Homo sapiens: one gene and its partners. The protein of the gene in region 5 purifies or fractionates together with the protein of the main gene of each other region. This does not show direct contact. Each region holds a gene or a part of one and is shown on either strand. Other genes may lie near its edges. The genes, in order: CLPTM1, PTDSS2, FAM20B, ITFG1, ENTPD2, ASIC1 and PIGN.

Region 1 (3,500 bases), on a different chromosome or scaffold from region 5:
CAACAGAGGAAGGAAGGCACGAGGAGGAGGGGCAGTGCTGAGTTTAAGTTAAACACCCATATGAATTTATTAAATCCAGACTGTGTTAAAGGGCGGCGGTCTAGGAGGGGGAGTGTGGTAGGGGGACGAGGGACAAGATGATGAACGGCCGTGGGCATCCCGTAGGGGGGCCCGGCCCCACCCCCGCCCAACCCACCCCCTCGGCAACGCTGCATCAGCTTCACCATGATTCCCAGTGGTGCTGGGCTGGCAGGGCGAGATGGCTGGAAACACAGAGGGACAGAGGGACAGACAGCGCCTCCACAAACAAACCCTGGCCTGCCCCGGCCCCTACATCACACGCTGGGCCCTGACCTGAGGCGGGCCTCCCACCGCCCCGGCCTGATCTGTCCAGGGAAAGGGCGACAGGGAGGGGAGGCGAGGGGGCCGGGACGCAGGGGTAGTGGTCGCCAGGAGCCGGAGCAGGTGAGGACCAGTCTCGACTAATCCTTTTTCTTGTCCTCTGCTGGCTTTGGAGGGGCTTCCTGGGGCTCGCTGGCAGAGCTGGCCCCCTGGGTGGGCTTGGTGGGCAGGGACGTGGAGGCCTCCTCCCTGGTGGCGGTGGTCGTGGTGGGTGCAGGTGTGGGCGTGAGGGCCCCTGCTGCTGTGGGAACCTCGGCCACGGGGGCGGCAGCTGTGGGGTCTTCTCCACTCATGCCAAACTCGTTGACTCGGGTGGGGTCGACGCGGTAGATCCACCGTTGGTAGAGGTAGATGAAGAAAACCACATCTGGAGAGGGGTGGGAGGCAGTGTGAGGTCGGGCTGGCCCGTCCACAGCCAGGTGGGCCTGGGTGGAGAGGGCGTGATGCAAGGGCGGGGCCGAGCCCCCTCAGACTGAGCACCCCATCTGGGGCCGTGGCACCCCCTCAGGCCTGGGCCCTAAAGACTGCCTCAGGGCCCTGTTCCGGTGGGAGCTCCCACCTGCCCACCGGGCCTCACCGTCCCGCAGGCAGCCGATCCGGTACATAACGGGCATCTTGATGACAAAGGCGAACAGGTCGTCGATGAATGTGTTGAGGGCCTTGTAGGTGAGCATGCGCCAGGGAAGGTGGGCCACAGACTTGAGCTTGTAGTTGATGAAGAGCTGGGGCGTCATGGTGATGAAGCCTGCAGTGAGAGCACCCATGAGCAGAGGGATGGCCTCTCCCACCTCTCCCCTGTGCACTCTGCACTGGCCATACCAGCCCCCTCACCACTTCCTACACCTGGGCACACTCTACCACTTCCTATACCTGGGCACACTCTACCAGCGGCCTCTGCACTGGTGGGGCCTTCTGTCACATCCGCACAGCTCTCTCCCTGGATATCTGAGGCCTCTGTTTAAATGTCCTGTCCTCAGAGGGGCCCCCGGACCCCTATTAATGTGCATCCTCCCACCACTCTGCCCTTCACAGTACTCACTATTGGCTGTGATTCACCCGGTCTTTTGTTTTTTGAGACAGGGTCTCACTCTGTCACCCAGGCTGGAGTGCAGTGGCGTAATCATGGCTCACTGCAGCTTCAACCTCCTGGACTCAAGGGATCCTCCCACCTCAGCCTCCCAGGTAGCTGGGACTACAGGCACGCACCACCACTCCCCAATAATTTCTGTGTTTTTTTGTAGAGATCGGGTCTTGCCAAGTTGCCCAGGCTGGTCACGAATTCCTGGGCTCAAGTGATCCTCCTGCCTCAGCCTCCCAAAGCATTGGGATAACAGGTGTGAGCCACTGCACCTGGCCCTACTTGTTTACTTGTTCCCAAGACACAAAGGCCCCCTGAGAATGAGGACTGAAGCGTACTGTTCATGTCCTCCCTGAAGTCCTCTCTGACCCCAGATGGGGCCATGTGTGCCCTCGGGCCTCCCTATATCCCAGCTCTGCCCACCCTAGGTTGTCCCTGTCTGGGGATGGGTCTGTCTCCTACACTGGGGCTGTGAGCCCTGCGCAGCATGGGGCCTGCTCTCTCCTGGGGCGGCCGGACCGCTCACCGAAGGTCAGCAGGAAGCCGTAGAGCATGCTGAGCACCCAGGAGTACCAGCCCTTGTGCTCCAGGTACAGAAGACTGTAGACGGCATAGCAGCCCAGGAGCGGGAAGAGGATCCAGGACAGGTACCGGAATGCCATCTGTGGGGCCACAGGGTGGGGCTGTCAGCCAGCTCCTCAGCCCTGCCTGGCAGCCCTGCTCCCCGCCCTCACCCACCACACCTGGTCTGGCAGGCCGGGCAGGGGGAATTTCCAGGTAGCCCTGGGGACTCCGGACTCGCCCAGGGAAGCAGTTATGGCAGATGGGGGACACAGAGGATGTGGCACAGGCTGTAAAGCATGGGTCCGGCAGACAGATGGCCGGCCCCGGGTGCCTCAGGGATACGTGGTACCTGGAGACCACCCCCAGGGGCCCACTGTGCAGGACACTCACATCATCATACACTTTGGTCGAGGACTCGATATACGTGGACTTGTCCTTGAAGGATAGGCGGGGGAAGATTCCTGCCACCCTGTGCTCTCGGTCCAGCTGTGGATGAGGTGGGTGCCATGGTCAGTTGCTACGCTGGCTCCCACCCCACAAGCCAGAACCAGCCCCTGCCCTTCCCCACCGTTCCCAGTTCCCCTGCCCCATGTGTGACCCAAAAAATCCCCTGGTGAGAAAATCCCCTCAGTCCTGGGAGTGAGGCACTTGCTGGGAATCCCCCGGGGGCCAGCTCCAGGGTCCAGCTGGGCCACACTACCCCCTCCCAACCCCTGCAGCTCCCGAGACAGCATGGCGCCCCAGCCTTACCCGGACGTCCATGACCTTGGTGATCTTCCAGAGGTCGATGAGGACCCCAATGAAGACGCTGACCTGGACCACGAAGTTGGTCTCGTTGTCCAGGATGTAGAGGAGGACCACGAATGACTGGAAAACGCCGAAGAAGACGGAGCGCACGGACAGGCCCTCCAGGGACTGCCGGCTGTTCCAGAACTGGATATCTGTGCGCAGGGGGTAGGGGGGAACCAGGAGGCTGAGGAGGTGCTGAGACCCTACTGCAGCTCCCTCAGGCCCCCTTGGCCTGCATCCTCACACCCTGGGGTGGGGCTGGGTCCTCAGGAGGGGTGCTGAACGAGACCCCTCTCTCCCAGGAAGGCTCTCATATTCATTGGGTGACCCCCAGAGCACCAGACAGGCGGCACCCCTGGAGCCCTCCCATAGGACGTCAGCACCCAGCACCCCAAGGTGCAGTCCCTTGACTGATGGTGACGGTGACTGGTGCCATGGACAGGGCTCACCACGTGCCAGGTGCTAAGGACTGGTCAGGGAAGCTGCTTCCCTGAGGCCAAACAGCCTGGCATGGCAGAATCTGAAGGGACGCGGGGTCTGTGCCACACCATGGTGCCAGCTCGCCCTCCCTGGGAAGGAAGATCTGTGGCATGCACTTCAAGACCACCTCCTCCAGGCCCCTGCCCTGACACCGGGAAGGAACTGGCTCACAGCCATGCTCAGGAAA
Region 2 (3,621 bases), on a different chromosome or scaffold from region 5:
GCACCCCAGGAATCCTGTGTCCACTGCCCAGTGTCTGCCAGCCTGGGACAAACACAGCACCCCAGGAATCCTGTGTCCACTGCCCAGTGTCTGCCAGCCTGGGACAAACACAGCACCCCAGGAATCCTGTGTCCACTGCCCAGTGTCTGCCAGCCTGGGACAAACACAGCACCCCAGGAATCCTGTGTCCACTGCCCAGTGTCTGCCAGCCTGGGACAAACACAGTACCCCAGGAATCCTGTGTCCACTGCCCAGTGGCCGCCAGCCCTTGGACAAGCGCAGCAGAGGGTGGGTGCCACCTGGACCCTCCTGGAGAATGGGAGAGGGGCTGCATCTGGCACCTGCTCTCTCTGGGGGGTGGGGCGGGGCAGGCGCCAAGTCTTTGCTCAGGTGCAGAGGCTGAGTGCCTCCTGTCCTCTGTGTGGTTTTCCCCAAGTGGGCACTGGGCATGAGGGCAGGCTGGAGGGCTGCACTGGACCCCAAAGCAGGACACGGGGAGCTGGGGGGAGGGCTGGAAGCCTCAGACGTTCGTTGTCACTTTATTGGTTCTCTTTGCTCGTGAAGATGACCCTCACCTTGGAGCCACGGAGGCAGCATGACCCCAGCACCCGGGTTCCAGGCCCCCTTGAGGGGCAGCTCAGTGATCTCTGACCCCATCATCCACGTGTCCTCCGGGGTGGTCTGTGTGAAAGGAAGGCTCGGAGGAGGTGGCTCAGCATCGCTGCCTGGATCCGCTGCCTCTCAGCCACGGAGTGTTTGTGGACGAGCGCCCACACGAGCTGCGGGGGAAGTGGATGTGGAGCCAGTGTAGACGCCTCCAGGCCTCAGCGCACCCAGGGCCCACGGAGTGCAGAAAGGGTACCGAGATGTCCCTGCCTGGACCACACCATGGCTGGGTGACAGGGAGCTTGGTGGGCCAGAGGCCACGGGGCTGACCAGGCAGAAAGGGGAGGGAGGACCCTGGTTCCTGAGGGACACACTGCCCCAGAGCATGCCCTTGCCACGCCAGCCAGCTCCCAGCTCTGGAGAAGCCTCGGAGCCCAGAGCACACGTGCACACCACAGGCGGCCACGCATGTGTACACACGCGCGTACACACGCGTACACACACGCATACACACGTACACACGTGTACACATGGAGATGAGGCTGTGCTGGGGCCTCCTCCACCCCTCGCCTTCAGCCTCGCCAGGTGCACAGGAGAAAAGCAAAAAACCTTGAGGGCAAGGCCGGGCACGTGGCTCCTGGTGGGACTCACACAGGAGGAGGCCACGGAGGCCTGGGCTCTGGGAGGCTCACGAGGCAGCCACGGCCCAGGTCAGTTTGGAGTTGGTGCTCCCTCGCCCTCGGCCACCCCAGGCCCCAGCAGGTCTTCGTCCAGCCCCAGTGGGTGCTGGTCCCCGTTGCCGACGGTGCTGCCCTGGTCATCCTTGTTCTGCCACTTCTGCCACCGGGTCTCCTTGTACCTCAATGTGATGTCCCTGGGGAGCGGGATGCAGCGTCACCACCTGCCCCCACACCAGCCCCACTGCAGGCCCCATGGACAGCTGGCACCTAGTCCCTGTGGAGGTCCGGAATGGACTGGGTGGGTGCCGGGTACCCTGGCCCTGGGACGGCAGCCGTGGCAGACTGGAGCCCTGAGGAGCCTGGATCTGTCAGTGCAGAGCGAAGGCCCCGAGGGCTGGGTCAGGAAAGGCGCCTCCCGCAGAGGCGGCCAGAGGGTTGAAGCAGGGACAGTGAGACACCAACGACACCAAACTCCCACAGTGCCTGTGCCAAGGGACCCGGACAGCGGCCCTCCTTCAGAACATACGCGCCCTGCCCTGACTCACCGCAGGAAGAAGCGCCAGACGGTCCAGGTGAGCGCCAGGACGGAGCCGAGGGTCCAGCACTGGGAGATGTAGAAGGGCAGGGACAGGGTGAGCGTGTGGGGGTCGTACTTCACCACGATGAGCAGCTCCGTGGCCGTGATGGCCGCCACCAGCCAGGCCTGCGGGCCCAGCTTCTTGTGGGGCTTCCTGCAGGGGCAGCAGGGGGTTCAGCGTCCCGGGCCCCGCAGGGTCCTCCAGGCGGACTTGCCCAGGCTCCGGCCTCCCAGGCTCTGCTCCCCAGCCCTCCGGCCCCTGCCCCCCGGGGGTGTCTCCACCCGGACTGCCGCAGCCCTCACGGGTCATCCATGAAGTCGTAGATCTCACGCATGGCCACGCCACCCACGTTCACGAAGAAGACGAGCCGCAGGAGGACCAGGTAGTGCTCCGGGGGCATCCACAGCACAAACTTCAGGTAGAACGTGTTCAGTTCTGCCAACAGGAACTAGGGGAGGAGAGGGTGAGCACCAGCTCTGGCCCCCCGCCCGCCGCGCCGTCGCGAGGCAGCCCGGCCTTACCACCAGGATGATGCCGCACACGGCCAGCCAGCGACGCAGGCTGGAGGCCGGCTTCCACTCGAAGCGAACCCAGCTGTACGGCGTGAACTGGAAGGCGATCCTCTTCATCTTGCCCCTGGGAACCACAGAGCCGGCAGCCTGAGGAAGGCAGCCCACCGAACCCTGCCCTGTGCCATCGGGCAACAGACTGTTCCTGGTCACCCGGCCCCGCCCTGTGCCATCGGACGAGCTCTGCTCTTGGTCACCCCGCCCCGCCCTGTGCCATCGGGCCACAGACTCTGTTCCTGGTTACCCAGCTGCTGCCCGGCTGTTCTCCGAGGTCTGGCCACCCAGCTACAAGCCCTGCTTCTCCACGGCCCTCTGCTGTTCAGTCTCTTCCAGCTTGAGCAGTGGCTGCAGCGCCTCAGAGGGCGCTCCACGGTGCCGTGAGCTAGCCATGTCTGCAGAGCCAGGCAGAGCCGGGGCACCCACAGGCAGGAGGGGAGACCCCCGTCCCCCAGGCCTTTCCTTAGACTTCTGTTTCTTTTTTAAATTCCAAAGTCATAATGACAAAGTACCTGCAACTATTTCATAACCAAAGCAACCAAGGGAGGGAGAAGCACGGAATGATCCCACAGCCCCTGCGCCAGGCCGGCCAGGGATTGAGGAGGGAGGTACGTGGGTCAGACGCCATGGCCACTGTGAGGGGCGGCCGGGCTTGAGTGACACCAGGTCAGAGGGAGGTTCCAGGAGGCAAAGCCCCACGGTCACCCCTCCTGAGCCGCACACTGGACGGGCCTGGTGCTCGGGGTCTGCTGGAGCACGGACGCTGAGGCTGCCTCCAGGTAACCCCCACCCGGCCCTGCCCTCGCAGCCCCCACGACGTACTTGTAGGTCGGAATGTTCCAGAGGCCCTGCCACTTGTACGTCTTCAGGGACAGCCACTCAAGGGTCTTCATGCCGCAGTAGATGCCCAGCCCGTTGCAGACGAGCACGTCCATGATCCACTGCAGGGAGGGGCCAGCACTCGTTGCAGGGGTGAGGGGTAACGAGCCCCCCGAGGAGGACCCCGGAAGAGCACAGGGGAACCGAGAATGCCCCTCAGCCTGCACCCACTGCCCCCCGGGGAGAATGAGGGGGTCCAGGGGCCGCGCTGGGCACAGGGGTTCCGAGAATGCCCCTCAGCCTGCACCGACTGCCCCGGGGGCTGTGCTGGCACCTACGTGATCCCACCAGCACTCGCTGAAGTTGGGCAGC
Region 3 (3,087 bases), on a different chromosome or scaffold from region 5:
AGACTCTACCTTGATACTGTTACAATGGCAATTTCAACATGTATTTTGTAGGGGACAGACATTCAAATGGTAGCAGTTGGTGAAATAAGGCAGATAGGTATCCTTAAAATAATTTTTTCCGCCAGGCGCAGTGGCTCACGCCTGTAATCCCAGCACTTTGGGAGGCCGAGGCGGGCGGATCACGAGGTCAGGAGATCAAGACCATCCTGGCTAACACGGTGAAAACCCGTCTCTACTAAAAAATACAAAAAAATTAGCCGGGCGTGGTGGCGGGTGCCTGTAGTCCCAGCTACTCAGGAGGCTGAGGCAGGAGAATGGCGTGAACCCGGGAGGCAGAGCTTGCAGTGAGCCGAGATCACACCACTGCACTCCAGCCTGGGCGACAGAGCAAGACTCTGTCTCAAAAAAAAAATAATAATAATAATTTTTTCCCAGTAGAAATTATTTTAGACTTCAGAAACACATGAGGAAGAAGGAAGTTTATAGTACCCATTAACGTCTAAGGATTAACGTCTAAGGATCCTCTTGTTAACACTGTAGTGTACTTCATTCCAATCCATGTATGTGTATTTTGTTTTCCTACAGATTTGAAGTGAAACAGGTTTTTCCTCCAACCTCTTCCCCCCACCCAGCATCATATCATAGGCATTTTCCCATTCCACTAAATTTTCAAAATTGTTTTTAACAGCTGCATGGTATTCCTTTCAATGGATGAACCATAATTTAACTATTTCCCAGTCGTTAGACATTCAGATTGTTCAACATTTTTCCTGTTATAAACAGCACTGCAGTGAACATGTGTGTAAATCTCTGTATATATCTCTGATTAGTTACACAGAAACAATATCAAAACATAGTAATGTGGCTTACTCATTATGTAGGGGTAATTCTAAAGCAAAAATTATTTAGTTAAAGGATTTTACCTAATTATTTTTTCACTTTTGTCTGCCTAGCAGGCTTTCAACTCCGTTTGATAATGAGAAGTTTTATGTACCTTGTTCTATAACTTTTTCTCCCAGCATTCGGGTGTCCACCTGGAACAGACTGAACTACCTAAAGAATGGTGTGCTAAAGTCTGCCTTAAAATCTGCCATGGCCCATGACCCCATCTCCCCAGTGCTCTCTGATCCTCATCTGGACGCCGTGGACCAGCGGCTCCTGAGTGTCCTGGCCACCGTGAAGCAGTGCACCGACCAGTTTGGGATGGACACAGTACTGGTGGAAGACAGGATGCCTCTCTCACACTTGTAATTCTCGACACAAAATAAGTGAAACTTCTTTTTACAAAGATAGAGAAACAGCACAATCAATTCCAAATGGTATGAGATGGATTGGAAGTGGCCAGCAGCAAGTTCTGGTGACGGGACAGAGTGGCCTTGGATGTCTTTGGTATTTTCTGTAGTAGAAACTAAAGCAAAGACCACAAGTTTCAGAGCATGGAGACATTCCTGCTGAATCGCCTTCTCACCTCCTCGGCAATTGCTCATTCTAGGGTTGGGCATCATAGTTGGTCAGTCTTAATTCCCATGCCAAAGGACAAACAGGTGTGACATTTGGATAGATGAATACTGGGATTGGCTCTGGAGCATGTGTTTTGAGTTGAACCTTGCAGTCCTTTCTCTACGCCCGTGGATTTTGTGGAAACACTTTGCAATCTCTTTGTCTTTTTTTTTTTTACCAGAACTAGTTACATTGGAATGCTTACTGTCCTACAGAGTGGCAGCAAATAAAACCTTGCATTCCATCAAGCCAAAATAGCACACTCTGTTAGAGGAGATACATGTTTAAGATAGAATTGGAGGGAAGGACAAAAACAGAAAAATGTTTGGGCTTTTAAGCCATTGGGTAGTATTGTTTTGATGATCTTAGAGGAGGGAAGAAGAGAGAGAGACCCAATGGTAGAACCAGAATCAGGGAGATGACTGAACTACTGAAAAACAGGTTCCCTTGTATTTAGGATCTTAAGGTGTATAAAAAGCAAACATGACTTTGCACCTAAGTAAATTCTGCATTCTCATAGTTGTGTCCCAATTAACCAAAAAGTTGTCTCTAGAGAAAATACTATTACAATCTAAGCATGATTCTCTGTGGAGACTAATTTTTTCCCCTTTTGCCAAAAGCAGTCCTTCCCAAATTAACAAAGCAAACTGAAATAATACCTTGAATAACAGGTTGCCTGTGGTCTCTGTCATCCTCGTTTCTCTTCTGAAATGAATTTCCACCTCTGCCTTTAAGGCATTTTTGTCACTGAAGCTGCTGTTCCCAAGAGATCGGCAACCTTTTTGTCCCTTTCTCATAAGAAAGGGACACTCCTACAGGTGAGAGTGTATACCTTACTCTCTCAGATAAGTGGCTGGACTTATCTTGTGATTTGGGGCCATGGAAGATTGGAAACAAAGATTTTAAGCCTTCTTCTTTTTTTCTTTTTTCTTTTTTTTTTGAGACCAAGTCTCACTCTGTTGCCCAGGCTGGAGTGCAGTGGCACGATCTTGGCTTACTGCAACCTCCGTCTCCCAGGTTCAAGCGATTCTCTTGCCTCAGCCTCCAGAGTAGCTGGGATTACAGGCGCCCGCCATCGTGCCCAGCTAATTTTTATATTTTTAGTGGAGACAGGGTTTCGGGTTTCACCATGTTGGCCAGGTTGATCTTGGACTCCTGACCCCAGGTGATCCACCTGCCTCAGCCTTCCAAAGTGCTGGGATTACAGGCATGAGCCACCGTGGCCGGCCAAGATTTTAAGCCTTCTGAGCCTTGAAATTGAGGAGGTTAAAAGGAAGAGCCTTAAGATTTTGATTTATGTCAAATCCTAATTCTATCATTCAGTCTTGTTTGGAGTTCTGAACCCATGATGTTGTATTATGCTTCTTTCTCCTCTTAGCACTCTCAAATTTCAGGTTTGTAAAACACAGTTTTTGTTTTGTGTTCTGGCAAAGTGATCTCAACATGTAAGTAGTTGCAGTAAAACACAGGGGCAAAGGAAGACAGGCCTGATGTGCCCACTCATCTATGGACTCAGAGCTGTGTGCTTTGCTCCTGCATCTTGTTGAGGTGCTGTTCCAGCTTTGCATTTCTGTCAAGTAGAGGCGA
Region 4 (3,500 bases), on a different chromosome or scaffold from region 5:
AATAATATCTTTTAATTGAAAACATCCCAGTGATAATGCTTACTGCTTTGGCAATTATGAGCCTCCATTTGTTAGAAACACCATCCGAATGTCTTGGTGTCCTTGACAAAGGAACTATATAGAAGGGCTATACTAGCCATTGCTTGAACATAATAAACACGTTTTCTCTCGACATATTTCAGATTTGTCTTGTTTCTTGAGACTATTCTGCATTCATTCTGAACTCTTTTTTAGACCAAAGAGGTCTAAATACATGATGGATGAAAAGATAGGAAAGAGAAGGCAATCAGTCAGTTCTGTTAAGTTTTAAGTTTTTCATTGAAAATATTTTTGTGTGGTAGAAATACAGAATTGTCCTTTTCCATTACAACTTGTCTGATATTTGTAAATGCTTGTTTCTTTTAGGAATCACAGTGCATTGATAACAAGTGTAGTCCCTGGGGATTATGATGGAGATTCTCAAATGGATGTCCTTCTGACATATCTTCCCAAAAATTATGCCAAGAGTGAATTAGGAGCTGTTATCTTCTGGGGACAAAATCAAACATTAGGTGAATTTGTTTTAAAAATTTTTAATATTTATCATTGAATATGAAGGTAAATGTAACAAAATATTGTTCTGAAATCAGTTCAAAAATACTGTTCTTGGGTGTCAATAATTGTAAAACCTTTTTTCAAAGTTTATTTCCTGATTTTTCTTTTTCAACCCTGAACTGGGCAGGGATCACTTCTACTGACAAACTTCATTCTTACTAGCTTAAAGAGGACAGAGATTTATTAAAGGATTTTAGTGGCTCACAGAATCATTGAGATGGCTAAAGAATAAACTCTAGGTTGAGCTTTCAGGAGCAATCCCAATATCATCAAAAAAGCTACTGCCTCTTTCCCCTATCAGAAGTGGCTAGTTACACAACTGCTGCCAGAATGATGCTGTGCCTGCAGTGATTCTCACTAGCAAAATGAATGCTGCACCTGGTCTCTTGATACTCCCAAATTCAGTGAGCAGACACAGATAGAAATAGCAGAGAAACAGCCTTTACCTCATTCATGCCTTTAAGACTCACAGTGTATCTGATTGGCAAGGCTTAACTTTTATTCAGCATCTCAGATGCCACAATATCTGGAAAATGCTATTTTTGGTTTCTAGTCTCCTTAGCACAGGAAAGCACAAAAAAGTTGAAGTATGGTTCGAGAGTCAGTCTACCATACCTAGTCACAAATCATCAAGCCTTATCTGAAAAGCCAATTAGTTATACCTAAATAGGCAACTTTGTTCATGGAGCCAAATTTCAGTCATGTTTTCTGCACCATTTGGGAATGTAAACAGTAATCGCGATACATTATATTCATTAAGTCAATAAATATTTACAGAGGGAGTACCATGCACAAAGCTTGTATATAAGCATGTACATTTTAGAACCAGGAAGTTTTGCATATGTGGCCTTCTTTACACCAAAACCTTGTTAATTGTCAACCTCTCTAGCACTAAATTGTGTAAAGACAAAGACTCAGCTAGCAAATATTTAGATGCATACCTCAAAAGGAGGTTATTGTAATGCTAGTCTTCACTGTAGAATGTATTCTCCCAATATTTTGTCTTTGCAAGCTTGATGTTCATTTGAACTAGATTTATAGTATCTCATTAATGATAATAGTTGGAATAAATCAGAGATAAATCTAGAAAAGAGTAGAAGAATATTTTTTCCTAAGCATAGATATCAAAAGTAATATAAAATGCCTGCTAATTCATATATATATATATCTTTTTTGCAGATCCTAACAATATGACCATACTCAATAGGACTTTTCAAGATGAGCCACTAATTATGGAGTAAGTATGGGCTTGCTTCCTTTGAAACGATTTTAAACTTAAACATAAAATAAAATCTTCACATAGGAAACTACTTTGCTTAGTAATAAAAATACTAAATTCACTCAGAGGCCTGTACCTTTGATTATATTGTATTTATTTGCCATCAGATAGGACAAAGAAAAATGAAATTTATTATTTTGGAAAGTAGAAGAGATTTGTGTTTTTATTTCAGTCGCTTCAAATGTGTCCATTATGGATCTATGCTGTCATTACTGAAAGAATTAAGATACCTGTTTTTGAGTAAAACTGTTATATTTGATATTTAGGATACAGTTTCCTCTAGAAATTTAGAAAGATTCCTATATTAAGGAGAAATTTTTGTTCTTTTTATAATATAACTCCTGCTTTGTGTTATCATTTATATTCTCACTGTAGACTCATGTACCAGCATAATTGATTTAAATAATTGATGTAAATTTGGATTTGCAAATTTCTGACAGCGTATTTTGGTAGAGGTCGAGATCATTCCCGGGACTAGAGCAAAGTTTGGCCACATTCTTGTTTCCAGTACTGTCTTTCTTACAGTTATTAAAATCATACCCATACAGCAGTGTGTCAGTGGCCATTAGAAGTCTGAACTGTAAATCCATGGATTAATCTTCTTAACGGTGCCCCGCTAGATTTCTTTCATAGTTGTGTATTTTTTCATTGTTGTTAAAATATTCAATGGCCAGTATGAAGTTTTATACCAACTAGGATTATTTTTCTAGGTTATTTCTCCTAAGCCCATCTAAGTAAACAAGTTGGCTTAGGATTCTGAAGTAAGTTTCTAGGAATTAGTGCTGTATCCTTATCATTCAAGGGTAGTCTAGATAATGCAAAGATTACAGAGATACCCAAAATCTCACAAAACGAATTTATTTCTTGCTCTTACTATATGTCCAGTGTGGGTCAACAACAGGCTCTGCTCTGTGCTGTTGCTTAGAGTCAGGCCATCAGAGAGCCCACTGTCTTTGTAGCTAGTCCATCTGAATCACAATGCCTTCTCATTGCCATGGCAAGCCTGGAGAGGGCTGGAGGGGCTGGTAACAGAAATTATACACTTTGGCCTAAAAGTGACACATGTCACTTGTGCTGACATTTGACTTAATACTTATCACTAGATACTGGCGAGCATTGTAATGTCTACCACACTTCCCAAAAGTTACTGCTTCTTTTAAAGCTAAATTAGAAGTAAGAATTTAAAGAAATAGCTGCTTATTGTTTTAATTTTTTTTCAGTTTCAATGGTGATCTAATTCCTGATATTTTTGGTATCACAAATGAATCCAACCAGCCACAGATACTATTAGGAGGGTGAGTAAATATGGTTATAACTATGTAATTAATCGTATATATTGCTTCTACTTTAACCATTGGAGAAAAAATAGCTCATTGGAATCCTTGTTTTTAAAGATTTTTAAGTGGGCATTTGGTTAATATATATAAGCTTTCTCAAATAGTTTGGATTTGGCCTGCACCTGCTTTCCAAGGGCCAGCTTACTCCTTTTATCTCTTTGAAAAATTAGAGATTGAAACTTTACGGGTCCCCATTTAAATATTGGTTCATTAAATGTTTTTGAAATGGATAGATTTCACGTAAATAGGGAGGATACCTGCAGTCTTGAGTGGATCCTCCCTATCTTAGT
Region 5 (4,021 bases):
CTCTTCCTGGCCCGAGAGGATGCGTGCACCCCGGAAGTCAAAGGGGTACTGGGTCAGTGTGTGAGTCACTGCCATGAGCACACTGGTCGAGGCCTCTGGATTGGTCAGGCTGCAAAACACAGAGAACTCCAAGAGGCCTTCTCCCCAGGTGGCTGTGAGCCTGCTGTAGGGGTGCTCGGAGTCCGCCCTGCAAGGGGTCACAGCCAAAGGCCATCATGGGGACAGGGCCAGGGCACAGGCACACTCACTTGAGCAGGCGCATACCCGCTGTGGCTCCCAGGTAGAGGGGTGTGCCCGCGTGTCTCTCTTTGGGCACATCCTGAAGCGCCTGTTCGAGGCATCCAACAAGACTCTGGCTGGCCCCAGAAGGGTTGTCTGCATAGCTGGAGATGCCCCCACCTAGAGGGAGGCAGAGAGATGAGCCTATGCCTCACGGGCAGCCCCTAGGTGGGCCGTAGGCCAGGAGAGTGAGGGTGGGGGTGGGGGCCGTGGGCTCCCAGACCAGGTGGCACACCTTCCCTGCTTAAGCCCCCAGAAACGCCCAGGTTGGAGACAAAGGGGCCCAGGTGCCACCCGGAGACCAAGGCTGCTGCCTGCTGAGAGGGTGTGGGTGCAGGTGCTAGGACAAAGCCCTGGGCATGGTCAACCCAGGTTGGCCTCCTGAGGCCTGCCTGGGTGTGTCCGCCAGGCCCCCAGACCTCCTCCTGCTCCATCTGGGGCACAGAAGCCAATACTGGGCCCGGCGAGGCTCAAACCTCCCCACCTGCTGCCTAGGCTTCCTTTCTAGAATGCAAACGACTCCTGGCCCCACTCAGGCGCAGGGGCACCAGCCTCTCTCTTTCCAGGGCTTCTGCCTGGAGTGAGCCCCACCCAACACTAAGCAGAAGGACCTGCACTGGCTAAGGCTGGAGAGGGTCCCAGAGACCCTGCAGTGAGTGGGCGTCCTGGCTGGGCTGGGCTGGGCCTCACCTGGAACATCACAGGAGCTGTGCTGGCCCACAATGCCTGTGTCGTTCTCCTTGTCTGCCGGCCACTTGTAGATAAACATGGACGTGTGTGAAGAACCAGCGTCCAGGACGATGCCATACTGCGGGGGAGGGGGAGGGAGTCAGCCTGGGGTGTCCGGGGGCCCTGACACCCTGACACCAAACGTGAAGTTGGGTTCCTCCAGTTTGCCACCGCTCCCCCCCCCACCCAGTCATGTGCCAAGCCTCATGCTGAAGCTCAGAGGAGGCCAGGGCCTCCTCTGAGGCCGTGGTTGGAAGGAGAACAGGGAGGTGGTGGGGAGGTGACTCTTCCCTCCTGACTACCTGAAGCCAGCATGCCAGGGTCTGGGCAGCAGCCTTCCTGGCAAGGGCAGACTGAGGGACTGAGTCAGGGACAGAGGGACAGAGGGTCCCCAGGGACTTTTCCCTGGGGCACAAGTTTCCCAGGCTCAGGGAGAGGAAGCTCCTCTGCAAGAGGAGCTCCCTAGAGTCCCTCTTCCTTCCTCCCCTCTTCCTTCCTCCTCTGTCTCCTTCCAGCTCCTCTGACGGCAGCCCAACCTGAGGATGCAGGAGGCAGGGCCCCAGGTGAAGAAGGTCCACCGAGGCTGGCCGTGGGCCTCAGAGCCAGGTCAGCTCTAAAGACACTCTCCCTAGGCCTCCAAGCCAGGGCCAGAGAGAGAGGCTGGCCCTGCCTTGTTGGGGGTGCTGGGTGGGCCTTCCTGCAGACCTGAGTGGCACGAGCTTGTAAATGCCCTTTTCCAGCTCCTGCCCCAGCATCCTGGATCCACCTGGAAAGCTGGGGACCAGCCTCCCAGGCCCGGGCGCCAATTCCAGCCTCCGAGAGGGCCGCACCAGTCCATCCCGACCAAGGCTTCCCCAGAGCCCAGAGCATCAACAGGTCAGCGCGTGCACCGCCACATGGCCGTCCTGCAGGGCCGCAGAGCTCCCTGCTTCTGACTCCCCATCAGGCTGGGGGACTTGGCTCTCCACCCCACCCCCCTACAAGCCCAATAAAGGGTTAAAGGGGCCGACCAGGAGGTCCCTGGGCCTGCTGGAGTGGAGATCCAGGCTAGCCTGCTCCAACCTTTTGAGGACCGGCCAGGGCTGCTCCGGTCAAGCCCTCCTGTCTTTCTGGGCCACTCTCGTGTCCTGGCGGGGGCCCTGGGTCCTGGGGCTTGTGGATCCCCATCTGGGCTGAATACCCAGTCGATGTGGCTCTAACCGCACCCTCCGGGGCGGCGGCACAGGGCAGAAGTGGCCCGGAGTGCCCCTGGGGGCCCGCACAGGCCTGGGGGCGGGCGTCCGGCAGCACCCAGGGGGCATCGCTGGGCTATCCCGGGAGCGGGGACACAGCCCCTGGGCTGCGTTGACGGACTCGGCGGCGGGCGCGGAACTCCCGGGACTTGTTCCTTCAGCACCGCGTCGCCCTGGAAGCGCCACCGCCCCCCGCCCCCTCCGCGTACCCGGTCGGGGAGCGCAGAGCGCGGAACCCGGGACCCCACCCAGCCCGCCAGGAGCAGAGCACGGTGGGGGTCCCGGGCTGATCCTGCTCAGGTTCCCAGCCGCACCCCCTCCCCGGCTCCAAGCCCGGCCCGCTGCTCCCCAGACGTGCGCTGGGTGCCCGGGCGCGCACCTTGAGGGCGGGCGGCTCCCGGACGTCGCGGGTGGGGACGCACAGCAGTAGGAGGCCGGCGAGGCCCGCGGCGGCCAGCAGCAGCGGCGGCAGCAGTGACCGCACCTTCCCGGCCATGGGCGGGCGGGCGCGCGGGAGGACGATGCGTGGACCCGGAGAGTGCGGGGAGCCGGAGGCGGAGGCGGGCGGGGCCGCGGGACCGCGGGGTAGGGGCCCCGGGGCGGGACGAGGGGCGGGAGGCCGGGCGGGCCCGCCCATCACCGGCCACGCCCACGGGCGGACAGGTTTCGCCTCCGCTCCCAAGCTTCCGCCGTCCGGCCCGCGCAGGTGAGAGACGCGGGCGCGGCTGAGTCACCAGCACCGCCCCCCGGCTCCCGGGTCTGAGCCCGGGCGCCCCGCGGCTATGGCCCACCTTCCCCTTCCCGCCCACTCAGCAAGGGGATCCCCCGGCCGTGGAGGCAGGAGACCTGGCGTGGGGGTGGGCGGGCGAGGCTGGCTCGGAGGGTCCTGTGCTGGAGAGCCGCGCTTTTCCCGGGCCCGGGAAAGGAGGCCAGACTCGCTTGCAGGAATGAGGCACTGTCGGCTGCGGAGCCACGCGGGGCCCGGGCTGGGGACTCAGGAGGAAGCCGAGGGTCAGCACCTGTTTGTGGAGCAGGGCCCTGAGCGCCAACTCCCAGGGCTGGTGAGGACCAGGCTGGCCTGCGGGATGCCCTCCCGGCCAGCAAGGATCCGCCAGCCTGCGGCGCTGAGCCAGCGCAGGTCAGCTCCAGAGACACGCAGCTGACCCAGGCCAGAACTACCCTTGAGGCCCAGTCAGATCCACCTCACCTGGGCCCTGTACTGAGGTGAAGGTGAGGACGCAGGAACGGGGAAGGGGAGGGACGGCCCAGGTCACACCGAGCCGAGAAACAGGAGAAGCAGCACAGACCGGGCCAAAGGTCCATACCTCCCAGCCCAGGGCCTCAGCCGCGCCTGCTGCCCCCTCGGCCTGAGGGGAACAGAGGCTTGGGCTGCGGAGGCCAGAGGAGGCTTCCCCAGGACGGAAACAGGTGGGGCCTCTACGTGGCCTGAAAGGCAAGGAAGAGGGTCCCCAGGCCAAGCTTGGGGTGCGGGTCAGCAACAGGCTTCTGGGGACGGCTGGGGCAGGCGAAGCGCAGCTGGCCCCAGACGCAAGCCCTGCTCCTCCGTCCCACGACATGGCTGGCCTTTCGGCTCTGCAGCCTCACAGGCCCCGCATCCCAGCCCGGCCAGGGGCCACCCCCTTTGCGCCTGCTGCAAAGTGGGAATTCTTGTCCCAATAATTCCAGCCACACAGCGTCAGGGAGCCACGAGGCAAGGCCACCAGGGAGTGCAGGCTGCTGGGGCCCAAAGGGCAGCCCCATGGGGCAGGGTCCAGACCATG
Region 6 (4,205 bases), on a different chromosome or scaffold from region 5:
TTCAGTAGGTTTGGGAAGTGGGGTGGCAAAGTCCTGCATTCCTTTCAAGCTCCCAGTTGATGGTCCTGGACCTCACTACAAGTAACACGGCTGTAGCTTACCCACCTGTCTGCTCAGCTCTGACACCTGTGGCCTAGAAGGTAAGCTTGGTGGGTTTGTGGCTATGCCAGACCACGCACGTGTGTGCATATATGTGTGTGTTGTGCACTGTAGGCTCTCTTTCCTGCCATCATGGCTGCAAGGCTGAGGCTCAGGTGCTCATGCAGTGAGTGCAAATGTGCCCCTATGCTGAACAAACTCCCCTTCTACTAGAAGCAAACCCCAGGACATACAACTTCCTCTCCCAGAGTAGCAAGCACCCGGAGAGGCCCAGCCTGCTCCTTGTCTCCTCCTCCTCCTCTGTGGGCCAGGCTGACTCACACCCCACACGAGGGGACTCACCACCTTGAAGTCTTCAGCGCTGCAGACCTCCCCCCGGAAGTGGCAGGAGAGCAGCATGTCTCGAATGTCGTGCCCAGCTCGGTCGTAGAACTCACGCATGTTGAAGGGTTTGGGTTTGAAGCTGCGGAAGTTGGCTTTGTCCTGCAGTATCTCCAGCTGCTTTTCATCTGCCATCTGTGTGTCTGGTATCTCATACCTGGGGTCCGGGGGTGAGTGACACACGGGTCAGTACAGTCATCAGTGTCCTGCACCCAACTTGGGTGATGGGGGCAGCCTCCAGCCCTGGGGATCAGTCCCAGGTGTAGGCAAGGAAGGAGAGCTGGGCATGCAGAGGCTCTACCACATGGGTCTGAAATGACAGGAGGAACTGTAGTGGCTGCCCAGGGGCAGGGCATCCCATCCCAGCACATGGGTGAGAGGAAGCATGGATAAGGTGGGCAGAGAGACAAGGCAGGGGCTGTGGCTTTTATACTGTAGTTTCTACCCTTTAAAGATGTTCTGTCCCCATCCCCCAACTGACGAGAAGGTCAAGACAGAGTGGCCAGAATGAAGGTAAAGCTCACTCCAGAGAGGGTGACAATGTCTCATACCTCAGGCTGGGTGGGGGTCGAGCTGTTCTGGACTATGCTGGGATCGGAGGCTGGGTGCCCTTAACTGGGTGCTCAGCAGCACCCTAACTCCTCTGCTGTGAGTGGCAGGTTTGGGGGTGGGGGTGGGTTAAAGGGCAGGGTTGGCTGGGCTCTATGGTGGGTCAGGGAGGCAGACATCCTGACTGGAACTCAAGCAACTCCAGGAGCAGGGCTGAGGGAGGGTGGGAGCCACCCACCTGTTGTTGAGCAGGGCCAGCAGCTCCCCAGCATGATACAGGTCATTCTTGGAGACTTGGCTAAAGCGGAACTCGTTGAGGTTGCACAGCGTGACAGCAGGGAAGGTAAGCTGAGAGGCAGCCACCTCGTCGAGCTTGGTGACATGGTGGTAGTGGAAGTAGTACTGCACACGCTCCGTGCACACACACAGCAGCACAGCCAGGGAGCCCAGGAAGCACAGGGCCCACAGTGCCCGCTTCAGAGACAGCCGCTCGTAGGAGAAGATGTGGGCCAGGCCGTGCAGTGTGGAGCTGCTGGCGAAGGCCTGGATGCTCACCGGCTGGACGCCACCCACCTCCTCCTCCTCGGCCTTCAGTTCCATCCTTGTTGAGGGGATCCTGGGGGAGGAGGGAGGGACAGTCTATCATTGTCCTGGGATGAAAGTACACATGGAGCCCCTCCACATGTGCCCATCCAGAATCCTCATCTCCAGAGGTCACCACTCCTCGGGCAGAAGACTTCCCTGCTTTGCAAGCCCAGAGGTGGCTGACCAAGGGACACATCCAGGGTTCCTCCAAATACAGAGGCACAGGGGGTCAGGTCAGGCCAAGAGAATGCTCCCCAGAGAAGCTTCCCAGGCCCGGGGAGACCCCAGATATAGTCATCCGAGGTTGAGGGGGAAGTCCTGATGCACCCATAGGCAGGCGCAGGAGTTCCCTCCAGATGTGGGGTCACTCTGGGACAAGAATATCCACCCCATCCTGGAGATGAAAACTCACCCAGATGGGCTGACCCCGGGGTAAGGAGCTCCTGTCCTGGTCACGGGTATTCCCTGGACGGGGCTGTGGTCCTAAGGGCTAAACTGGGGCCAGAAAACCCCCAGGGAGGTGGCTACATCTAGGGAGGGGCCCAGCCTGAGTCCTCACCTGCGGGTGTCTCCAGTTCTCACATAAGCGCAGGCTGTGTGTATGTTGGGAGTGGGGGGTGGCGGGCTGCCCGAGGTGGATGTATGGAGGGGGGGCGCGGTTCCCTATGACAGCGAGCTGTCCCCGCCCCGGACGCAGCCCCCCCCAGTCCAGCTTCTCGTCGCAGTCAGATCCCCAGCTCGGCCCCCGCCCCCCTCCCCAGCCACCGAGCCGCCCCAGCAGCAAGGGAAATCCAGAGGGAGGAGAGTCCCGGCTTCGGGGTACCGAGGAGCCTCGCGGCCAAAGGCAGGGGTATCGGAAACCCACCTGAGGGGGCTTCGGCAAGCCGGCAGCCGGCGGCGGGTCCTGGGGCGCTGGACCGGTGGCGGGCTCAGCGCCGAGTCGCGGAGGGGCTCATGGCCCGGGGCCGGAGCCCGCGGCCGCCGCGGCACGCCGCGCAGAGCCCTGCAGGGAGCGCCCCGCCCGGCCCCGCTCGGCTCCGATCTGTCCGCCCGCCCGCGCGCGCTGGCTCGCTGGCTCGCTCGCCTCGGCTCGGTCTGCCCGGGCTCGGCGCGGTGCGCGGTGCTCTCAGCCCTGGGATCTGCAGGGATCCATCGTCCGGCCGGGAGGCGGCGGGAGGGGAGGGGGAGGGGAGAGGGTGCGCGTGCGCGCCTACGAGTGTCTGCGAGGCTGTCTCTGGGCTGGTGTGCGCGCGGGGCCCCGGATCCGGGAGCGGGACCCAGGGCTCCCCGCGCCGCCTCGCCCCTCCTCGCGGCCGCTTTCGGCGGCGCTGCCTCTCTCCAGTCCCGGAGCCGTCTCCCTGCCTGCGAGGCCCTATGGCTTGTGTGTATGACTCTGTGTGTGGTGTGTGTGCGCGCGCGCGTGTGTGCGCGCAGGAGGGAGGGTGTCTGCCCCTAGCGTCCCTCTCCCCGCGCTGTCTCCTTCGGATCGATGCTCCTGCCTCTTGCTGCTGCTTCCTCTGGTGGCACACACGCGCGTACACACACACATACACACACACGCTCCGAGTCACACTTGACTAATTCAAGCACTTAGCCCATATGGAGACAGACACACATACCGACCAGAGTCACACCACACCATTCACAACCACACCCCCCCGCAACAGATGTCCACGTATCCCGGGGGCCTGACCCACATGGCAAGCACTCACCTGCTCTTATCCCTGCTCCCACCTGCATGTGACACATATACACGTGCACATATGTGAGCCAACACGCAGCCTTGACCACTCAGATCCCATCCTTGTAGCTTTGGGCTTGTGGGGGGCATGGTCGCAACCCCTTACTGCCAAATCTCCAAAGAAGGAGCAGAGAAAAGGAAGGAAAAATAGCCAGAGGTCAAGGGAATTTGGACAGAAGGAAGGAGGCAAAGGGAGTGAAGGGGACAGGGTGAGGAAGGGTTGGAACGGGGAGCTATGCTCAGGGATGGAGCAGAAGTCTCAGCACAGAACGCAGGCCTGGGGGCTGCTCCTGTGGCTCTCACCTTTCTCCTTCCCTGCCTCCCTCCTCTTCTCTGAGAGGCCTTGGGGAGGGGGGCCCTCCCTATCCAATTAACAGAGAAGGAGCAATCAAGGGGAAGTTGTTAATTTGCTGATGCTCATTAGGGGCTCTTAGCACAGAGGCTGTTGAGGTCTGATGGTGTCAGATGATGAGGAGGAGGGTGCGGGGGACCAGAGTTCTGTCTCTAGTGGCTCCTTCGCTCTACTTGCAGGCTGGTGCGGCTCGGGGAGAAGGATGGTGAGAGGTGTATTCCTAGGACATGGTGCCGGGCTTTAAGTTAGAAGAAAACCTGTAACGAGAAGGGGATGGCACATTGGAAAGAAGTTGGATGAGAAGTTGGGAGTAGTGGACATCTAGGAAACCAGAGAAGGGGTCTGGAGGTCCCTAGTGGGAGAGTGGACTTAAGATTGTGGAGGAGGGAGGTCGAGATCCATTTACTAGGGGACTGGACACGGAGCTGCCAAAAGGAAGGGAGGATCTTCCATTCAGGTCTTGGGGAGCTGTTCAGCGGTACCAGGCAGTGCTGGAGG
Region 7 (3,500 bases), on a different chromosome or scaffold from region 5:
TCCTGTTATTTGAATATGTATTTGCCTGATTACTAGTGAGTATGAAAATTTTTTCATGTTTTTATTGGCCAATTGGGTCTCTCTTCCTTTCAACTGCCTATTCATATCCTTTGATCAGATAGGATTAGGGTTATTGACCTTTTATTTGACTTGTACATTACAATTATATGTGTGTGTATGTTTATATAGTGTGTGTATGTTTATACATAGCTAGATATACACATTTATATATAAATGTTGTTCATAGGGCCTTTTGTTAAAATAAATTTTTCAACTTTAATACAGTAAAATTTGTCAAACATTTATCCTTTCTGGTGTGAGTTTTTTGTGTCTTGTACTATAGAAGAAAACTTTCCTGGTTCTTATGTCACATATATTCTTCTAATAGTTTTAGATTTTTGTTTTTTACCTTTCATTATTTAAAATTTATTTGTGTTGGTTTGTGTCCTCTGAAACAAAAATAATTATTTGTATATGGTGTGAGGTAGACATCAGCTTATGTTTTTAACCAGCTCACAAGTATTAGTACTGCTACTAGTGTAGAATTTACTATGATAAAATTACACATCAGAAAGAAAAAGGTTTTAAACCTTTACATTCAAATCTTGGCTTTTGCTATTTGTAATAATAAAAAATTGGAAACAATATCTAACCATAGGGAACAGATAAATTGTTTATTCATAATGAAATACCATATTTCTGAAAAGGATACATCTCATAAATATCAGTATTAATAAAAAAAATTTTAAACATCTATTGCCCTTTTCTCCCCAACACAGTCAAACTTCTTGAAAAGGCTGAATGTGACCTCTTTTTTTTCCTGACCACCTAAATCTCAAACAACTTAAACCTTATTGTCATTACTTCATAAGAAAGTAAAGACAGTTAACAGTGCAAAATCTAATAGCTATTTTTTAGTCTTCATTTTCTAAGCAACCTAAGCTTCCTGGGCTAAGTCATCCTCCCACCTCAGCTTCCCAAGTAGCGGGGACCACAGGTGCATGTTTACCACATTCAGCTAATTTTTGTATTTTTTGTAGAGCGGGGGTCTTGCCATGTTGCCCAGGCTGGTCTTGAACTCCTGGGCTCAAGTCATCTACTCACCTCGGCCTCCTAAAGTGCTGGGATTACAGGTGTGAGTTGCTGGGCCCAGTCGCCTTCTCCTTTTTATTTTTATTTCTTTTTAGACAGAGTCTCGCCCTATCTATCGCCCAGGCTGGAGTGCAGTGGCGCGATCTCGGCTCACTGCAACCTCCACCTCCCGGGTTCAAGCAATTCTCCTGCCTCAGCCTCCCAAGTAGCTGGGATTACAGGCACACAGCATCATGCCCAGGTAATTTTGTATTTTTAGTAGAGACAGGGTTTCACCATGTTGGCCAGGCTGGTCTCAAACTCCTGACCTCAGGTGATCCACCTACCTCATCCTCCCAAAGTGGTGGGATTACAGGCATGAGCCACCATGCCCGGCTGCCTTCTCCTTTTTAATAGGCTGTTATCACTTGGCTTCTATGAACATTACTGCTTTCATTTTTCACCTACACCTCTGACCAATGTTGAACAGTCTCTATCTGATCACTAAATTTTGGAGTTACTCAAAACTTGGTCCTCAGCTGTCTTTTCTTCTCACTCTATACTTTCTATCCTGGCAAGTTTCATCATATCTGTGGCTTCAGTTATTACCTAATATGCAAAAGCCTCAACAAATTATAGCTCCAAATCCACATATGTAACTCGAACCTTTATAAATCTACATGGACGTTTCAAAGACACTCAACTAAGTAGGTTTAAAACCAAATTCATAACATTTCCCATGAGCCTTGTCTACTACCTACTAAATCCTTAGTGTTCACAATCTCAGTAGGTGGCACCACCTTCCCACCAAGTATGTAAGTCTGAGAAATAGGCATTGTTCTTTACACCCTATTCTTCCCCTTTATTTAATCTAACAATTGTCCACTTTGTGTTTCTTGAATCTGTTCATTTGTCTTAATCTCCATTGACACCTCTATAATTTAAGATGTATACCATCTCTTATGCGAACTACTGCAATGCAGGAATAGGTCACCCCTATATACTCTAACCCTTCTCTGATCCATTTCTTGCCATGTAGCCAGAGTATTACTTGCTTTTCTTTTTTCAAAAGAAAATCTGAACATCTTACCCCTTGTATAAAACTCTCCAGTGCCTTCTGTGAAGCATTCACTGTCTTTAAAGTCAAAAGACACGTTTGCAACAACACGGATGTTCCTGAAGCCTGGTATGCTAAGTGAAATAAGCCAGGTGCAGAAACACAAATACTGCATGATTTCACTCCTATGTGGAACTTAAGAAAGTTGACCCCACTGAATTAGAAGCAGAATGGTGGTAACCAGAGGCTGGGGTAGTTCCACAGCGGGGGGCAATTGTAGAGATACTGATCAAAGCATTCATATTAGAGTTAGATAGAAGGAATAAGTTCAAGAGCTCTGTTGTACAGCATGGTGACTCTAGTTAATGATGATATATTGTATTCTTGAAAACTGCTAAAAGGGTAGATGTTCAAATTTCTCATCACAAAAATGATAACTATGTGTAAGGTAATGCATTTGTTACTTAGCTAGATTTGAGCATTTCACAATGTATATAAACTGAAGAACATCATGTACACAATGAATACATAAAATCGTATATTAAAAAATAAATTTAAAAATGAAGTCACAGCTGGAAAAAAAAAACTCTCCAGTGCCTTTTCACCTACTAATCTAGACTAAAATCCTTAATGTGACTAACAAGGTCTTTTATAGACTAGCCTCTGCCTTCTTTTCTAAACCTGTCTCATAGCACTCCCCTTTACTTTGTAACATCTCACATCACTGGCCCCTTCTTTTATTCAAGTATCCCACTGCTATAAGACCTTTGTAGGCTCAATTCCTCTCTGCAGAATGTACTTGCAACCTATCTTCCACTCTCTCCTAACATTCCATTTCAAGCATCACTTCCTCAGGGACTATGCAGGTGAAGTCAGAAACGAAAACTTTTACTTCAGTTTGTAATTACATAGCTTTGTCTACGACTATTTGAATTAATGTCTGTCTCTGTCACTTCACCACAATTCCATGACAGCAGGACGGGGCATCTCCAACACCCATCAGAGTCTTATGCACTTAGTAAGGACTCAAATGTTTGCTGAATAAATTATTTAGAATTATCATTTCAAGGGTAAATGCAATATGCACTACAGCCACTAGAGGATGCCCTGCTTCTGTTTTTGTTCCTCCAGAACAAGATGTGAAGACTGAAAATACTTTAAAAAAAAAAAAACTAAACCTTTTATGATAAAGTAATTTACTATTAATGTAAATAAAATTGCAGTTATTACAAAATATCAGCATTCACTAACTACTTATTTTAATTAGTTTAATTGCTTAATACTAAATATTACTTAATACTTCTCTTTAAAGAAAATCACAATTTATTCAGATTTATTGAAAAAGAAATACCTCCAAAACAAACACATAACT

The links.
Region 1: the proteins of ENTPD2 (region 5) and CLPTM1 purify together in Homo sapiens (affinity purification with mass spectrometry; one large-scale study listed by BioGRID and IntAct). This does not show direct contact.
Region 2: the proteins of ENTPD2 (region 5) and PTDSS2 purify together in Homo sapiens (affinity purification with mass spectrometry; one large-scale study listed by BioGRID and IntAct). This does not show direct contact.
Region 3: the proteins of ENTPD2 (region 5) and FAM20B purify together in Homo sapiens (affinity purification with mass spectrometry; one large-scale study listed by BioGRID and IntAct). This does not show direct contact.
Region 4: the proteins of ENTPD2 (region 5) and ITFG1 purify together in Homo sapiens (affinity purification with mass spectrometry; one large-scale study listed by BioGRID and IntAct). This does not show direct contact.
Region 6: the proteins of ENTPD2 (region 5) and ASIC1 purify together in Homo sapiens (affinity purification with mass spectrometry; one large-scale study listed by BioGRID and IntAct). This does not show direct contact.
Region 7: the proteins of ENTPD2 (region 5) and PIGN purify together in Homo sapiens (affinity purification with mass spectrometry; one large-scale study listed by BioGRID and IntAct). This does not show direct contact.

The regions. Positions count from the first base shown.
Region 1 is NC_000019.10:44,989,880-44,993,379, reverse strand, and holds the end of CLPTM1 (putative lipid scramblase CLPTM1), read right to left. Parts: intron 2,986-3,500; coding exon 2,795-2,985; intron 2,531-2,794; coding exon 2,435-2,530; intron 2,143-2,434; coding exon 2,007-2,142; intron 1,148-2,006; coding exon 980-1,147; intron 770-979; coding exon 483-769; 3' UTR 39-482; downstream 1-38. UniProt on the Homo sapiens protein: Involved in GABAergic but not glutamatergic transmission. Binds and traps GABAA receptors in the endoplasmic reticulum (ER).
Region 2 is NC_000011.10:488,279-491,899, reverse strand, and holds the end of PTDSS2 (phosphatidylserine synthase 2), read right to left. Parts: coding exon 3,588-3,621; intron 3,372-3,587; coding exon 3,253-3,371; intron 2,501-3,252; coding exon 2,386-2,500; intron 2,313-2,385; coding exon 2,167-2,312; intron 2,018-2,166; coding exon 1,832-2,017; intron 1,481-1,831; coding exon 1,318-1,480; 3' UTR 501-1,317; downstream 1-500. UniProt on the Homo sapiens protein: Catalyzes a base-exchange reaction in which the polar head group of phosphatidylethanolamine (PE) or phosphatidylcholine (PC) is replaced by L-serine. Catalyzes the conversion of phosphatatidylethanolamine and does not act on phosphatidylcholine.
Region 3 is NC_000001.11:179,070,894-179,073,980, forward strand, and holds part of FAM20B (glycosaminoglycan xylosylkinase), read left to right. Parts: intron 1-1,019; coding exon 1,020-1,251; 3' UTR 1,252-3,087. UniProt on the Homo sapiens protein: Responsible for the 2-O-phosphorylation of xylose in the glycosaminoglycan-protein linkage region of proteoglycans thereby regulating the amount of mature GAG chains.
Region 4 is NC_000016.10:47,451,064-47,454,563, reverse strand, and holds part of ITFG1 (T-cell immunomodulatory protein isoform 1 precursor), read left to right. Parts: intron 1-405; coding exon 406-551; intron 552-1,773; coding exon 1,774-1,831; intron 1,832-3,093; coding exon 3,094-3,168; intron 3,169-3,500. UniProt on the Homo sapiens protein: Modulator of T-cell function. Has a protective effect in graft versus host disease model.
Region 5 is NC_000009.12:137,051,262-137,055,282, forward strand, and holds the start of ENTPD2 (ectonucleoside triphosphate diphosphohydrolase 2), read right to left. Parts: upstream 2,801-4,021; 5' UTR 2,737-2,800; coding exon 2,620-2,736; intron 2,115-2,619; exon of another isoform or gene 1,749-2,114; intron 1,615-1,748; exon of another isoform or gene 1,088-1,614; coding exon 970-1,087; intron 400-969; coding exon 249-399; intron 110-248; coding exon 1-109. UniProt on the Homo sapiens protein: In the nervous system, could hydrolyze ATP and other nucleotides to regulate purinergic neurotransmission. Hydrolyzes ADP only to a marginal extent. The order of activity with different substrates is ATP > GTP > CTP = ITP > UTP >> ADP = UDP.
Region 6 is NC_000012.12:50,056,191-50,060,395, reverse strand, and holds the start of ASIC1 (acid-sensing ion channel 1), read right to left. Parts: upstream 2,801-4,205; 5' UTR 2,480-2,800; intron 2,227-2,479; exon of another isoform or gene 2,174-2,226; intron 1,646-2,173; 5' UTR 1,630-1,645; coding exon 1,268-1,629; intron 638-1,267; coding exon 442-637; intron 1-441. UniProt on the Homo sapiens protein: Forms voltage-independent, pH-gated trimeric sodium channels that act as postsynaptic excitatory receptors in the nervous system, playing a crucial role in regulating synaptic plasticity, learning, and memory.
Region 7 is NC_000018.10:62,180,557-62,184,056, forward strand, and holds part of PIGN (GPI ethanolamine phosphate transferase 1), read right to left. Parts: intron 1-3,500.